Linked DNA regions of Homo sapiens. The protein of the gene in region 2 interacts with the protein of the main gene of each other region in a pairwise test. Each region holds a gene or a part of one and is shown on either strand. Other genes may lie near its edges.

Region 1 (3,661 bases), on a different chromosome or scaffold from region 2:
GTGAACCTGAGGGTAGCAGTATTAACATCCTCTTGTGAAAATTAAGGCACCCAACAGTAACACCAGTCGAAACTAGAGGGTTAACCCATCTCTACTCCTAGGGTAGCCATGGACAGAGACGCTATTTTCCTTAAAATCTAATTTGGGTCATTTACAAATGTGGAAGCAAAAGCTGAGACATTAGGTAACTTGCTTAAGGTTAACTAAGGACTGAAATAGACTCCGGAGAGCTAGAACAGTGGTTCTCAATCCCAGCCGCATATTAGAATCCTCTAGGAGAGAGAAAGTTGGGGGAGGAGTAAAAGGGACATGGGAAAAAGAATGGGAAGGAGGGAAAAGGAAGAAAGTGAGAGAGGCAGAGATGAGGGGAAAAAAAAACAGAAAAAAAGAGAATAATTTCCATTTCACTCTAATGTGCTAACAGAGTCACTGAGGTTCCTCAATTCCAAGTATAACTGCAACAGTTTTAGGTGGGAAATTTTTCCAAGTAATTCTAACCAGATGCTCAACCCTGCCATAAAAATCCTCAGTAAACAAGCCTTTGAACAATGCAACTCACAGGAACATTGTCAAAATTAACCACTTGGAAAATATACACCTAGACAAAGAAGTGGTATTGTTAAAACTTAGATCAAGACACTGATATTAAACCTTTGAATAATCTATTTTATTCAGAAAAAAAATCCAAACTCCTTGCATTTGTAACAAGGCACTAAATACTCTGACTCTTATCTCCGTAGCTCTAACCTAGTTTCATACCAACTTTTCCAATCCTCAATACGTACCAGTCCCACTATTTCTGAACATCCCAGGTTCCTTCCTGCTTTGGGAACTCTGTACTTGTTCTTCTCTCAGTTCTTCACATGGTTCTTCCTAATTCTCTACTTTTCATCTTAAATCTTAAAGATTACCTCCTCAAAGATGGTTTCCCAACCTACTCTGTTTAAATGAGACTTCCCTTGTTATTCATTATCACGGCATCCAGTGTATTTTATTCACAGTACTTAGAACACAACTGCAGGTCTCTCTCCACTAGAATGTGAGTCCTCTAAGGGAAAGGATCTTATCCTCCAGGTCCATAGATGAATCCCAAGTGCCTAAAATAATCTTGGGCCTACAGAAGACAATGAACTAAGTGGGGAGGGAAGGAGGAAGGGAGAGGGACAAACTTAGATGCTAGTAGATGGTCAACAAATATTATTAATGAATTTATTTGCATTGTGGGAAAATTCAATTGTGTAAACCAATTACACACTGAACACACACAGTAAAAAATGGTGATTTTGATTTTAGAAAAATTGATTATAGCAGTAATCAAACAATGAATCCATTTGTCTTTTCTAATAACATCTCCAGTTCACATTAATAAAACCACAATAATGGAAAAAATCCCACAATTTAATGTAAATTTTAAAATAGAATACAAACTTGTATCAACTTTTATACAATAAATAAGTTTTAAAAAGACTAGACAGAAATATATCAAAATTTTAACAAGTTATCTCTGGACAGTTTGACATATTTTCTTTTTTGCATCTTATTTTTCAAATTCTCTACAATGAGCATATTTTTACTTTTATGACCACAACAAAATTAAATAAAAAGAATAATTGCCACACTGCTCTAAAGCTAGCCATAACCATGATTGAAGAATAATTGTCGATACTGTACATTACTACATAATTTTAACTCATTAAAAAATTGTTTTGAATGACAGTCATTAAAGCCTACTTGTCATGGTGAATTTTTATTTTACTAGTTCTCTGTCACTATCACGCATTGCCACTTTTTTTTCTTTTTTGAGACAGAGTCTCGCTCTGTCGCCCAGGGTGGAGTGCAGTGGCGTGATATCGGCTCACTGCAAGCTCCACCTCCCGGGTTCACGCCATTCTCCTGCCTCAGCCTCCCGAGTAGCTGGGACTACAGGCGCCCGCCACCACGCCCAGCTAATTTTTTGTATTTTTAGTATAGATGGGGTTTCACCACGTTAGCCAGGATGGTCTCGATCTCCTGACCTCGTGATCCACCTGTCTTGGCCTCCCAAACTGCTGGGATTACAGGTGTAAGCCACCTCACGTGGCCGCCACTTTTTTCTTTTAATCTTGGGCAGTAGTTTAGCATGGCAGAAACACCTTCCTTGCACTCAAACTTCTAAATCCCAGCTCTGTCATTACGTAGTTGTGTAACTGTTTTCATCTTGTACATTAGAATAATACCACCAATTAAAGATATTCTGGTATATGGTAGGGTCTAAATAAAGAGTAGTAATTATTATCCATGGGAATACATTACCTACTAGCTAGATTATAAGCACTTTGAGAGACTGTGATTGCCTTGTATCCACTGTGTCCGTAGTCTAGCACTGAGTCAGCATGCCATAATTTTCAACATATTGTCATATCAATTACTATCTTCACTACCTTTTTCAGGGAGACCCATCTTAGGATTGTAGAAGGAGTATTACCTCTCTCCTGCTATTTTATTTTTATTTTATAGAGATGAGGGCTAACTATGCTGCCCAGGCTAGTCTCAAACTCCTGGGCTCAAGCAGTCCTCTCACCTTAGCCTCCCAAAGTGCTGGGATTAAAGACATGAGCCACTGCGCCTGACCCTCCTAGTTATTTTAATGGTAAGTTAGAATAACTCTTAAAAGCCAGAGAAAGTCAAATATTAAATCATATAGCTCTACACTCTCCTATGGCAACAGTAAATAAATGAGTAAATAAGACAATTTTAGATAGGGTAAATAATGTTATTACCTATTCAGGTCCATATTTCTAAATCACATGCTAAGCTGCTATTTTAGACATTACCTACTAATTTCCTGTTGTAATAGACGAAGATGTTTACTACACTTACACTATCTTCCCACTATATTTCATCCCAATTTTTGGTTAAACTGGCTGTAGTTCTGCATTATGATTAGGGAAATACTGCTTACTGTAAAGCCAAGAAATTTACTGTGATAATGTCTCCTTTTTTATAAAAAGTTTCGCTTTTCCTGTTGTGTCCCTATCCTTCGTTTTTTACATTAGATGCTATTTATACTCATCAACAGATTTTTCTTCCAAATGCTTAACATATCTATTGAGTCTACTTTTATCTGGAAACCTCCTTTTTGTAGAGACAGGGTCTTGCTTTGTTGCTCAGGCTGGTCCTAAACTCCTAGATTCAAGCAATCCTCCCATGTCCGTCTCTGGACTAGCTGGAATTACAGGCATATGCGACTGTGCCTTGCCTATCTTTTGTTTTTTTGTTTGTTTGTTTTAAAACAAGTTTTTCTTCTTAAATGTGAACAAATATTTTAATTTAAAAATATTTTTGTTGTTTTTGTTTTAAAGGAAGCTTGTATTAATCAATAAAATATCCAGAAACAATGTCTGTGAAACAAGTGCTTTTATCCACATTTGGCAAAAGAGCCAATAATAAAAACACCAATCTATAAGCAACAGCTAAAAAGAAAAGCAGCTGATTTAATTTCTCACTCTATTGTTCAAATTAGCATTTTAAACCATTGCACCTTAATTAAAGCCACTCTTTTAGGTACAATAATCACAGGCAAAGCAACTACTATGTAGGGTAACTATAAATGATCAAAACAGGACACTTTTGAAAATGAATGGAGCACTATTAATAATTATGCCAGGGCAATATGCATAAT
Region 2 (3,661 bases):
AGGCGGATCACTTGAGGTCAGGAGTTCCAGACCAGCCTGGCCAACATGGCAAAACCCCATCGCTACTAAATATACAAAAATTAGCCAGGCGTGGTGGCAGGCGCTTGTAATCCCGGCTACTTGGGAGGCTGAGGCTGGAAAGTCACTTGAATCCAGGAGATGGAGGTTGCAGTGAGCTGACAAAGTGCCACCACTGCACTTCGGCCTGGGCGACAGAGCAAGATTCTGTCTCAAAAAAAAAAAAAAAAAAAAAAAAAAAAAGAATATACATTATTATTGTCTACTGTTCTGCATGATTATTAGATTTACTTGATTCTTGCAGTTACCAACTGGCATTTTTAAACCTAATTTCCCAAAATCTTGGCAAGTAATTCTTCAATTCCTTCATTTTAAGGAACATTTTTAGGCCGGGCGCGGTGGCTCACGCCTGTAATCCCAGCACTTTGGGAGGACGAGGCGCGCAGATCACAAGGTCAGGAGATCAAGACCATCCTGACTAACTCGGTGAAACCCCCTCTCTATTAAAAATACAAAAGAAATTAGCCAGGCGTGGTGGCAGGCGCATGTAGTCCCAGCTACTGGGGAGGCTGAAGCAGGAGAATGGTCTGAACCCAGGAGGCGGAGCTTGCAGTGAGCGGAGATCGCGCCACTGCCCTGCAGCCTGGGCCTGGGCGACAGAGCAAGACTCCGTCTCAAAAAAAAAAAAAAAAAAGAAACATTTTTATATCACCCCCGTAATGCTTAACAGACATTTGCACTTGTAAGCAAGCATGCTGAAATATCTGTTCAAACTTAAAAAGTGCAAGAAATTAGATAAGCAATTATATTTAGGAAGTGTTCAAGCGCTAATGACTGGGGGTACAGGTGGGAAAGACAGAGTAAGTATAACAAAAGTTCAACCTATCACTCCTGTAATCCCAGCACTTTGGGAGGCCGAGGCGAGTGGATCACTAGGTCAGCAGATAAGAGACCACCTTGGCTAACACGGTGAAACCCTATCTCTACTAAAAATACAAAAAATTAGCCGGGCGTCGCGGCGGGCACCTGTAGTCCCAGCTACTTGGAAGGCTGAGGCAGGAAAATGGCGTGAACGCGGGAGGCGGAGCTTGCAGTGAGCCGAGATGGCGCCACTGCACTCCAGCCTGGGCAACAGAGCAAGACTCGGTCTCAAAAAACAACAAAAAAGTTCAACCTATTTGGTTATTGTTCATAACATTTCAATTAAAAAGTGAAATTCTGGCTGGGCACTGTGGCTCACGCCTGTAATCCCAGCACTTTGGGAGGGCGAGGCGGGCAGATCACGAGGTCAAGAGATCGAGACCATCCTGGCCAACATGTTGAAACCTCCCCTCTACTAAAAATACAAAAATTAGCCAGGCGTGGTGGCGCATGCCTGTATTCTCAGCTATTCAGGAGGCTGAGGCAGAAGAATTGCTTGAACCCGGGAGGCGGAGGTTGCAGTGAGCCAAGATGGCGCCACTGTACTCCAGCCTGACAACAGCAGAGCGAGACTCCATCTTAAAAAAAAAAAAAAAGGACAATTCAGGCCAGGCGCAGTGGCTCATGCCTGTAATCCCGGCATTTTGGGAGGCCGAGGCGGGCAGATCATCTGAGGTCAGGAGTTCAAGACCAGCCTGGCCAACATGGTGAAACCCCGTCTCTACTAGAAATACAAGAATTAGCCGGACGTGGTGCTAAGCGCCTGTAATCCCAGCTACTCAGCTACTCAGGAGGCTGAGGCAGAAGAACTGCATGAACCCAGGAGAGGCTGCAATGAGTAGAGATTGTACCACCGCACTCCAGCCTGGACGATAGAGCAAGACTCTGTCTCAAAAAAAAAAAAAAAAAATGCAATTCACTATTTATTTACTTATTTTTTTTTTAAGATAGGGTCTCACTCTGTCACCCAGGCCATCATAGCTCACTGAAGCCTCAACCTCCTGGGCTCAACCAATCCTCCTCCCTCAGCCTCCTAAGTGGCTGGGATTTCAAGTGTGTGCCACTTAGCCCGGTTAATTTTTAGGGGTAGAGACGGGGTCCCACTATGTTGCCCAGGCTGGTCTAGAACTCTTGGGCTCAAGCGATCCTTCTACTTTGGCCTCCCAAAGTGCTGGGATTACAGGCGTAAGCCACCACACCCACTGAAATTGACTATTTCATTGCTTCCTATAATTCCCAACTTTGACTTACCTTGGATTTCTTCTAAACTGTTCTAAATTAGTAAAATCAAGGTGTCTGGACTTTTCTGAAGCACTGTGTTCCAGTTACCTTTTTCCCCCAGAGTAAGTATTTTCAATCTCAACTATTCTTTAAAAGTTCTAAATGTGATCACAGGATTTTATCTACTTGAGATAATTAAGTCTCATATGAACTTAAAGAGGCAATACTATGGGATTGTGAAAAGAACACTAAATCTGGAGTTAGTGAAAATTTTCAATCCTGATTTACTCATGACTGGGAAGATCTAACCTCCAGGTTCTACCACTCTCTAAAATTTAAAATGAAAATTCCAGGATCTTGTCCAGATCCACTAGTGTGTGTATATATAAAGCACTCTATAAAATATCCAAATAGTGGTAATAACTAGAAAAATATAAAAATGCAATCTGTTGTTGAAACATTTAAACTAAGTCCATTGTCATATTTATTAAAATTATTTTCCCGTTATCATTATAACTAAGTCTAAACTTGTCACATTTGTACTTATTCAATACTGACAACAATTTCAAAAATAAGAGGGGCTATCCCTGGGTTTTTCAATAGTTGTTGTGTGACTGCTAAGCAAAAGGCCTTTAAAAAAATTTCACATATACTATACATACCCTGTTGTTCCTCTGCAATCCAATCAACCTTATCTGCATGTCTAGTATTATCTAACATTAATCTCTTCAAATCATTTCAGGAACAATACTGCTTCCAAAAGCAGTAATTTCAATTTAGAAGAACATCTTAAAAACAGAATACAGGCTGGACACAGTGGCTCAGGCTTGTAATTCCAGTACTTTGGGATGCCAAGGTGGGAGGATCACTGGAGCCCAAACATTCAACACTAGCCTAGGCAACACAGTAAGACCCCATCTCCACAAAAAAAAAAATTACAACTTAGCCCAGCATAGTGACAGGAGCCTGTGGTCCCAGCTACTTGGGAGATGGAGGCAGGGGGATCCCTTGAGCCTAGGAGGTCTAGACTGCAGTGAGCCATGATCGCACCACTGCACTCCATCAAGGCAACAAAGTTGAAATCCTATCACACACACATACACAAAAACACCAGAACAACAACAAAAAACCAGAATACCTTTGGAGCAAAAGAAAGCAAAATACTTCTATTTCAAAGATAAGGAAAATTCTCGTCACTCTGGAAAATAATTAAAATCATTCTTTTGAAATTCTGTAATACGTGAATATATGAATAGTAGTTTTTACTGTTAAAAGTGTCTCATGATACTTAGGTAAAACCAATGCAGCACAATGATAGGTTAAATAAAAATTCACTCTTCTTATTCTGTGATTTTAAAGTATTATCTACTCTCTATGATACTTCTCCTTTGCTACTGCTACTGCTACTGGGACACAGTTGCCCACCACAATCGGCGTGGTCCTCTCACAAAACACGCAGAAAATCAACAGTAACAACGGAAAACTCACACACACACACACA
Region 3 (3,661 bases), on a different chromosome or scaffold from region 2:
AAGTAAAACTGCCACTCCTTTGAAATAATACCAACTTGTCATTATTTGCAAACACAGCCAACACCTAATGACTGCTTTGTGTAAACATATAGTCAATAAGCTGAAAGGGAAGCATTCATGTCCATAAATGTTTGTCTTTGACAAATATTTTATTCAACTCCTATTCCTAAAAATAAAATTCTACTTCCACTAGAAAACAAAGAATGACTAAATGCATAAACAAGACAAAGAAAACCACATGAGACCTAAAATCTTTTTAGCTTAACACATTTTTCATCTTCCACATTCATTACCACCATTCTTGGCTTCTAATAATCACTTATGTCATTAATAATAATCACCCATATCATCAATCACTGGTGGTCTTGCTTTATGAACAAATGGTGTTCAATCCTGCATAGTTATTTGGAAACTGGAATTCACCTTCCCCTAGAACAATGTCATGAGTGCTAATGTACTTCCCTGGCCAGCTCACTAGGATCCTCTCAACTCACAACGCAGGTGCCTTTCATACTACTAACACTAATTCAAATATGTGATGTCTACCTTTGGCATCTGCCAATCTGCTTTCTGTAACACCCTCTTTCCACACTTAGGTGCCTCAAACTTCTCAACAGTGCTACTGCCCAAGCCTTAAAATGACTTACTCTCGGGCCAGGCGCGGTGGATCACGCCTGTAAACCCAGCACTTTGGGAGGCCGAGGCCGGCGGATCATGAGGTCAGGAGATCGAGACCATCCTGGCTAACATGGTGAAACCCTGTCTCTACTAAAAATACAAAAAATTAGCCGGGCGTGGTGGCAGGTGCCTGTAGTCCCAGCTACTTGGGAGGCTGAAGCGGGAGAATGGCATGAACCCGGGAGGTGGAGCTTGCAGTGAGCCGAGATGGTGCCACTGCACTCCAGCCTGGGCGACAGAGAGAGACTCCATCTCAAAAAACAAAAACAAAACAAAAAAAAACTTACTCTTCCTTCTTCCTTCCTCACTCCTCCTCTCAGCCAAACTCCAATTCTCTCACTGTGATTCTCAGCAAAGAAAGGAGCAAGATGAATTCATGAACTTATGATGAAGTGTACTGATAAGAGATGTCAAATATTCTGCCACAAAGTGGGAAACTGATGGAATCTGTGAATCCCTTTCTGCGTTACCATTAACTCCTGAAATGTGGTACTACCAAGTCAGTTAAATTTAGATACAAGAATTCAGAAAGCAACTCCTGGCACTTCAGTTGAACGCTACCATCCATCAAATGCTTCTTAAAAAAGACCTGCAAATCTGCTGTAAGCTTTCCATAGCCCACAAGTACGTAGGACAAAATCCTTTAGAATGACATTAACCATTGCACAATTATTGCGTTTTGTGAAAACAAATCAAAATACACAGTAACCAAAGTAAATCTGTATTTGATAGGCTTCTAAGCACTTTAACAGATGAAAAGTAAAAAACAGGCTGTATGGAAGAAGATATTCCATAGATTAAAGCAGTCATTTAAGGCAAATGGCCCAGTGTATCTAGGGATGTGCTCCTGGGGTCAGTGAGTTCAGGATGTGGCTACCTCACAGTGTTCACACTTCTACTACTTGCAAACTCTAAGTCGTCAGAATCCTCAACTCAGAATCCCCAATGTCACCAACACGTTTGAATGGCCGCAAGACCACATGTATGCTATCCAGATTCCTTTGTTCAGTGATAGAAAACTGGCAACTGGAGTCCTAGAATGAATGGGCATCCCTGGCACTCCTAGTGCTTGTAAACTGAAGATTGCTTTTCGCAACTGCAGCACCAAACTCTCCTCGGGACTGAGGAGTACATGTTTTCTATTTATAGTCCCTCAGAATTAAATATGAAAAAGAAAAGGAAGTGATCAGATATTAAGTATTAAATTTCCCCAAGGGGAAATTCACATAAAAATAATCCCCACCAGTGAATCAGCTAATCAGAGTACCAAAGAATGAGACAAAGAGAGAGAGAGAGAGAGAAGATTTTGATATTTAATATCTAAAAAAGAGGAATTGGAAATTGTCATTATAGGAAAAAATCAGAACTACATAGGTCTCCTTTACAATTATTCTTTGGGTTAAACTTTTTTCTTTGAATTAAATGTGGGCTGGGAATGAGGGGGAAGAACCATAATCTCTTCAGTGCTTATGACTTCTAAAGTGTTACAACCGTGTGCACACACATATACAATCCACCTTAATATTTATGCCTTTTATTTTAAATTCTGAATTTAAATTTTATATTGGGAGTCGTTTTGATTCTTGAAAAATGCGTTTTGAGCTGATTAGAGCTTCCCAATTAAAACGGTACAACTGAATATATTATATGGGCATGACATTTATAAGCAAATTCTATTTTTTCACATCATATTAACTTTAATACTGGATTGTTACACAGAACATGATATATTTTAAAATGAGAGTTAGTATTGTTCGATAATAGAATGACCAAGGCACAGAAGGCAGATTCTGCCTGACGAGGCTGATAACAAGACCCTTTACACATCCAACGTGAACAAAGCAGCAGCTCATCTCAGTAGCAGTCTGCTTTTCTTTTGTGAGCATAGTTTGAAACACATACATTAAAAACAGTATCAATTTTTATGCGGCTATGGTGGGGGGAGGAATCAGCATATCGTGTTAGCAATTTTCTGTGGAATCACATTAGTGTTTCATTGTGGTAGCCGTATCACATTAAAATCTGTTTTTCTACTAAATGGCTTCCATTGTGTATTTAGTGAATCTGATATGGAAAACTGCTAATGCAATAAGAGTATCATAGAAGCTTTTCCTGACTGTAATGCTCAGCCACAATGTTCAGGAGAAGGAGGCTCTCAACTGGGCTGAGGGGATTTCAGGCCTCTGAACTAGTCCTCAGCTCAGATTCAACACCAGCTTCTTGAAAGATGGACTTTATCCTATGGGTGAAATGCTTTTACAGACTTTATTTCAGGAGGGACCATGGGTTCAGTGAAAAAATGTGTCATGTATTTGTTATTTATTGATAGAGTACTATAAAGGGCACTGTGGTCAGCATTCAGAGAATAAAAAAGGTAGATGAAACAGTCCCTTCCTTCCTGGATCTTGTAAGGATGGTCTGAGGGGAAGAAATAAATTAGTCTATGAGTAACTTAATACAAAACAGGTAAGAGTTGAAAAGGCGAAGAGCCACAGGAGCTCGAAGGAGGACATACCTGGGACCAGGGTCATCACAGAAAGTCCCGTGAAGGCAGCGCCTGAACAGGGCATACAAGATGAAGAAGTCATATTTGAGGATCCTGTGGGAGGTGGGGAAGCTGGGAAGGCCTCAGCGTGGGGTAAAGGTGCACAGGAGAGGAAAGCCAGGGTATGCATGGAAACTAGCATTTGCTATTTTAACTGCAGCATAAAATAGGGAAAGACCGGGAAGATAAGCCTGGAAAAGTGGTCTTGGGTCAGCCTAACACAAAAGGAAGCCGACACCAAAGGAGAGCAGAATACAAGTCAGGCAAGTGCGGCCGAGGTGTCCGTCATGGTTTTGGGGTAGGAAGTGTCAGGATGAAGACCACCAAGCAAGAAGAACATCCAGTTTTCATGGGTATAATGACTCCTAATGCTAACAGATATCTTGAAATCCTAACAACTTTAGTTGACACAAGTTTCTTAAGAGACAAAATTTACCG
Region 4 (3,463 bases), on a different chromosome or scaffold from region 2:
GAATGGCAAAGTCATATGGCCAAGGCCATGAGTGATTAATTTTAACACAGGAAAAAAGTAAAGCATTAAATGCGATTATTTAATATACAATGTCTTATTAACTGAAATATAAAATGTGTTTACTGTAAAATATAATCTGTTTATCTCACCAAAGAAATATTATCTTTAAAAAATGTCATTACTTCTAAGACATCATCAGTCTGCAACTTCTTTCCATAGCCTTAATCAGGATGCTGTGGCAGCTCCCACATTAGCCTCGCATTCTAAACTGGTAGATGTCCTAGGAAACCATACATCTATGTATTTTTCTTATTTTATACGTTTAGGACAATGTATAGCTAATTACCCAACTTTTTATTTGCATACAAATCTAATACAACTGAACACAATCAGTTTTATCACAGGTATAATGGATTTTTCAATAGTGAGGAGGTGCCTCCATGAGCCTTCTCTTTAGAAAAGTGGCATTCAAGACTCTTCATTTGAAGTGAAGATTGCTATGTCTTTTGCATTGCTCTATTTTACATAAATTAAGTTATAAATTGACACTATAATCAACTGACACCATGATCAGTGATGATGATCACCCTCATCAGCACTAGAGTTGACTTGTTTTTATAACCCCTTTGCATGTATGTTGAATAGCAAAGTTCATCAGAGAACATGTATTAGTCAATGGTAAGTAAGATACTCTCATCTAAGAAATAACATCACCTCTTCTAATGAAGTTCTAAGAAGAGAGGGAAGAAAAAGTCTTGGGAGCTAGTCAGGGAATAGTGTGTATTTGCAATTACCTAAACTGAACTCTACCATTACTCCTAACCCAGTTCCTCCTCCTGTGTTTTACATGATTAATGCCACCCCTGCCTCAATGAACCAAGATCAGCTCCATCACTGGGACCTCCCCATTCTGCCTGTGCAATATTTTTCTTTTTTATTTCTCCTTCTAATATTACTGTTATTGCTCCAGTAAAGAGCTGTAATATATTTTACCTGGACTGATACCAGGAATGGTGGTGTTGCTTCCAATCTGTTGCTGCTAGATTAATCTTTGCAAAGCACAGGCTTAATTTCATTGCTGCTCAACTAAAACCACTGGTGGCTTTCCATTGCCTACAAAATAAAGTCAACCTCCCCATCAGACATTCAAGGCTTTCAATGATCCATGGCCGCCAGCTCTCTCCAGGCTCATATCCCACTCCACTCCTCTGATGTTTCCTACACTACACTACACTATACTACACTACAGCCAGGTAGAATGACTGTTCACCCAACACCACTCAGGTTGTCTTCTCAACTTGGAATACTCTTGCACCTTCAAAGCTCATTTCAAATGCCCCTTCATTTGTGAAGCCTTCTCCAAATTTCCAAGTCAGAATGTCTCTTCCTTGTGCTACCACAACCCTTTAACTGAGCCTCCATTAGTGCACTGAGACCATTCTGTTCAGTGTCTGGGTGAAGCTTCCTGGTGAAAAATATGTTACCTATTTCTTTCTGAAAAGTTGGATTCAGGGATATTATCACGGACCTAAGGTAATAGTTCTAGCCAACCTCCCTGTCCACTGCCAGGCCGACTACAAACCCTTCTGTTGCTGGCGAGCTGGTCCGCACCACTAGTTCTGCTTCACTCTATTTATCTCTTGATGTAACCATCTTCTTTCTCCAGGTTTTAAGAACCAGCCCAACTCCTGGTTCCCTGATGAAGCTTTTATTCCCCTAGCCACATGGAACTTTTCCTTTTTGGAACATGCCTTTAGTTTCTGTGTAGTTTGCCATGCAGCACTTCATTGTACACATTATTAAAACAGAATTTTAAGGATTAGAATGAACCTTAAAAGATCATGCATCTCAAAATTTAATGTACATACAAATTACCCAGGGATTTTGTTGAAATAAAAATTATTTAATTTTAATTAATATAAATAATTCAGTAGGTCTGGGGTGAGGCCTGAGGTTTTACATTTCCAACAAGCTGCCAGGTAAAGCCAATACATCTGTCCAGGAATCACACTTTGCGTATCAAAGGTCTAGATGACATTATCATTCCAAAGAGTTTCTTTTACAGGCTCTCAGATCAGTGTTCATCCACTACCTGACTACTGTCATTCACAGGCATTCTGTTCCACAGCAGGCCAGCTAACGTGGTATTTACAAAGCTCACTCCTCTTATACAACAATCCAAGTGTTTCTTTTGTCAGTTGTCTGTGCCCCAGGAGATCCCTCTCTGCCTTGCCTTGCCCTCTGCCTTTGGAGACCAGCACCTCATACTCAGTGAAGGCCTGGAGTGCTTAAGAGGGATTTCTTCCAGCTCTCTTGCCCTGGTCTTCAGTGTATTAGATGTATTACCTCCATGCTCTCAGTAGAGGCCCATAGGAAAGAGTAGGTAGGTTATGCCAGCTCACACGCATCCTTTAAAAATGGTTTAGAAGTTTAGCTGGTTTCTTATTACTCCTGTCTATGGATGTTTCCTTCTGTCACTCTACTAGGGATGAAACAGCTAATCATGTTCAATAGTTACATTTAGATTGGTTTTTAAAAACTATGATTGTATTAGTTCGTTTCCATGCTGCTGATAAAGACATATCTGAGACTGGAAACAAAAAGGGTTTAATTGGACTTACAGTTCCACATGGCTGGGGAGGCCTCAAAATCAGGTGGGAGGCAAAAGGTACTTCTTACGTGGTGGCATCAAGAGCAAAATGAGGAAGAAGCAAAAGCAGAAACTCTTCATAAACCCACCAGATCTTGTGGGACTTATTATCACGAGAATAGCACAGAAAAGACTGGCCTCCATGATTCAATTACCTCCCACTGCGTCCCTCCCACAACATGTGGGAATTCTGGGAGATACAATTCAAGTTGAGATTTGGGTGGGGACACAGCCAAACCATATCATTCCTCCCTGGGCTCCTCCAAATTTCATAATCCTCACATTTCAAAACCAATCATTCCTTCCCAACAGTTCCCCAAAGTCTTAACTCATTTCAGCATTAACCCAAAAGTCCACAGTCCAAAGTCTCATCTGAGACAAGGCAAGTCCCTTCCACTTACAAGCCTGTAAAAGCAAGCTAGTTACCTCCTAGATACAATGGGGGGTACAGGTATTGGGTAAATACAGCTGTTCCAAATGAGAGAAATTGGCCAAAACAAAGGGGTTACAGGGTCCATGCAAGTCTGAAATCCAGTGGGGCAGTCAAATTTTAAAGCTCCATAATGATCTCCTTTGACTCCATGTCTCACATTCAGGTCATGCTGATGCAAGAGATAGGTTCCCATGGTCTTGTGCAGCTCCGCCCCTGTGGCTTTGCAGAGTACAGCCTCCCTCCTGGCTGCTTTCTCAGGCTGATGTTGAGTGTCTGTAGCTTTTCCAGGCACAAGATGCAAGTTGGTGGTTGATCTACCATTCTGGGGTCTACCATTCTGGGGTCTACCGTTCTGGGACTGTGGCCTTCTTCTCACAGCT

What was found. The genes of interacting proteins can lie anywhere in the genome.
Region 1: the proteins of RANBP9 (region 2) and MKLN1 interact in a two-hybrid assay, tested with the Homo sapiens proteins (2 studies listed by BioGRID).
Region 3: the proteins of RANBP9 (region 2) and SMAD9 interact in a two-hybrid assay, tested with the Homo sapiens proteins (one large-scale study listed by BioGRID and IntAct).
Region 4: the proteins of RANBP9 (region 2) and ENTPD1 interact in binary tests that used the Homo sapiens proteins (3 or more experiments, as listed by UniProt).

Annotation. Positions count from the first base shown.
Region 1 is NC_000007.14:131,446,368-131,450,028, reverse strand, and holds part of MKLN1 (muskelin), read right to left. Parts: intron 1-3,661. UniProt on the Homo sapiens protein: Component of the CTLH E3 ubiquitin-protein ligase complex that selectively accepts ubiquitin from UBE2H and mediates ubiquitination and subsequent proteasomal degradation of the transcription factor HBP1.
Region 2 is NC_000006.12:13,705,175-13,708,835, forward strand, and holds part of RANBP9 (ran-binding protein 9), read right to left. Parts: intron 1-3,661. UniProt on the Homo sapiens protein: May act as scaffolding protein, and as adapter protein to couple membrane receptors to intracellular signaling pathways. Acts as a mediator of cell spreading and actin cytoskeleton rearrangement.
Region 3 is NC_000013.11:36,913,586-36,917,246, forward strand, and holds part of SMAD9 (mothers against decapentaplegic homolog 9), read right to left. Parts: exon of another isoform or gene 3,194-3,661; intron 1-3,193. UniProt on the Homo sapiens protein: Transcriptional modulator activated by BMP (bone morphogenetic proteins) type 1 receptor kinase. SMAD9 is a receptor-regulated SMAD (R-SMAD).
Region 4 is NC_000010.11:95,871,155-95,874,617, forward strand, and holds part of ENTPD1 (ectonucleoside triphosphate diphosphohydrolase 1), read left to right. Parts: 3' UTR 1-3,463.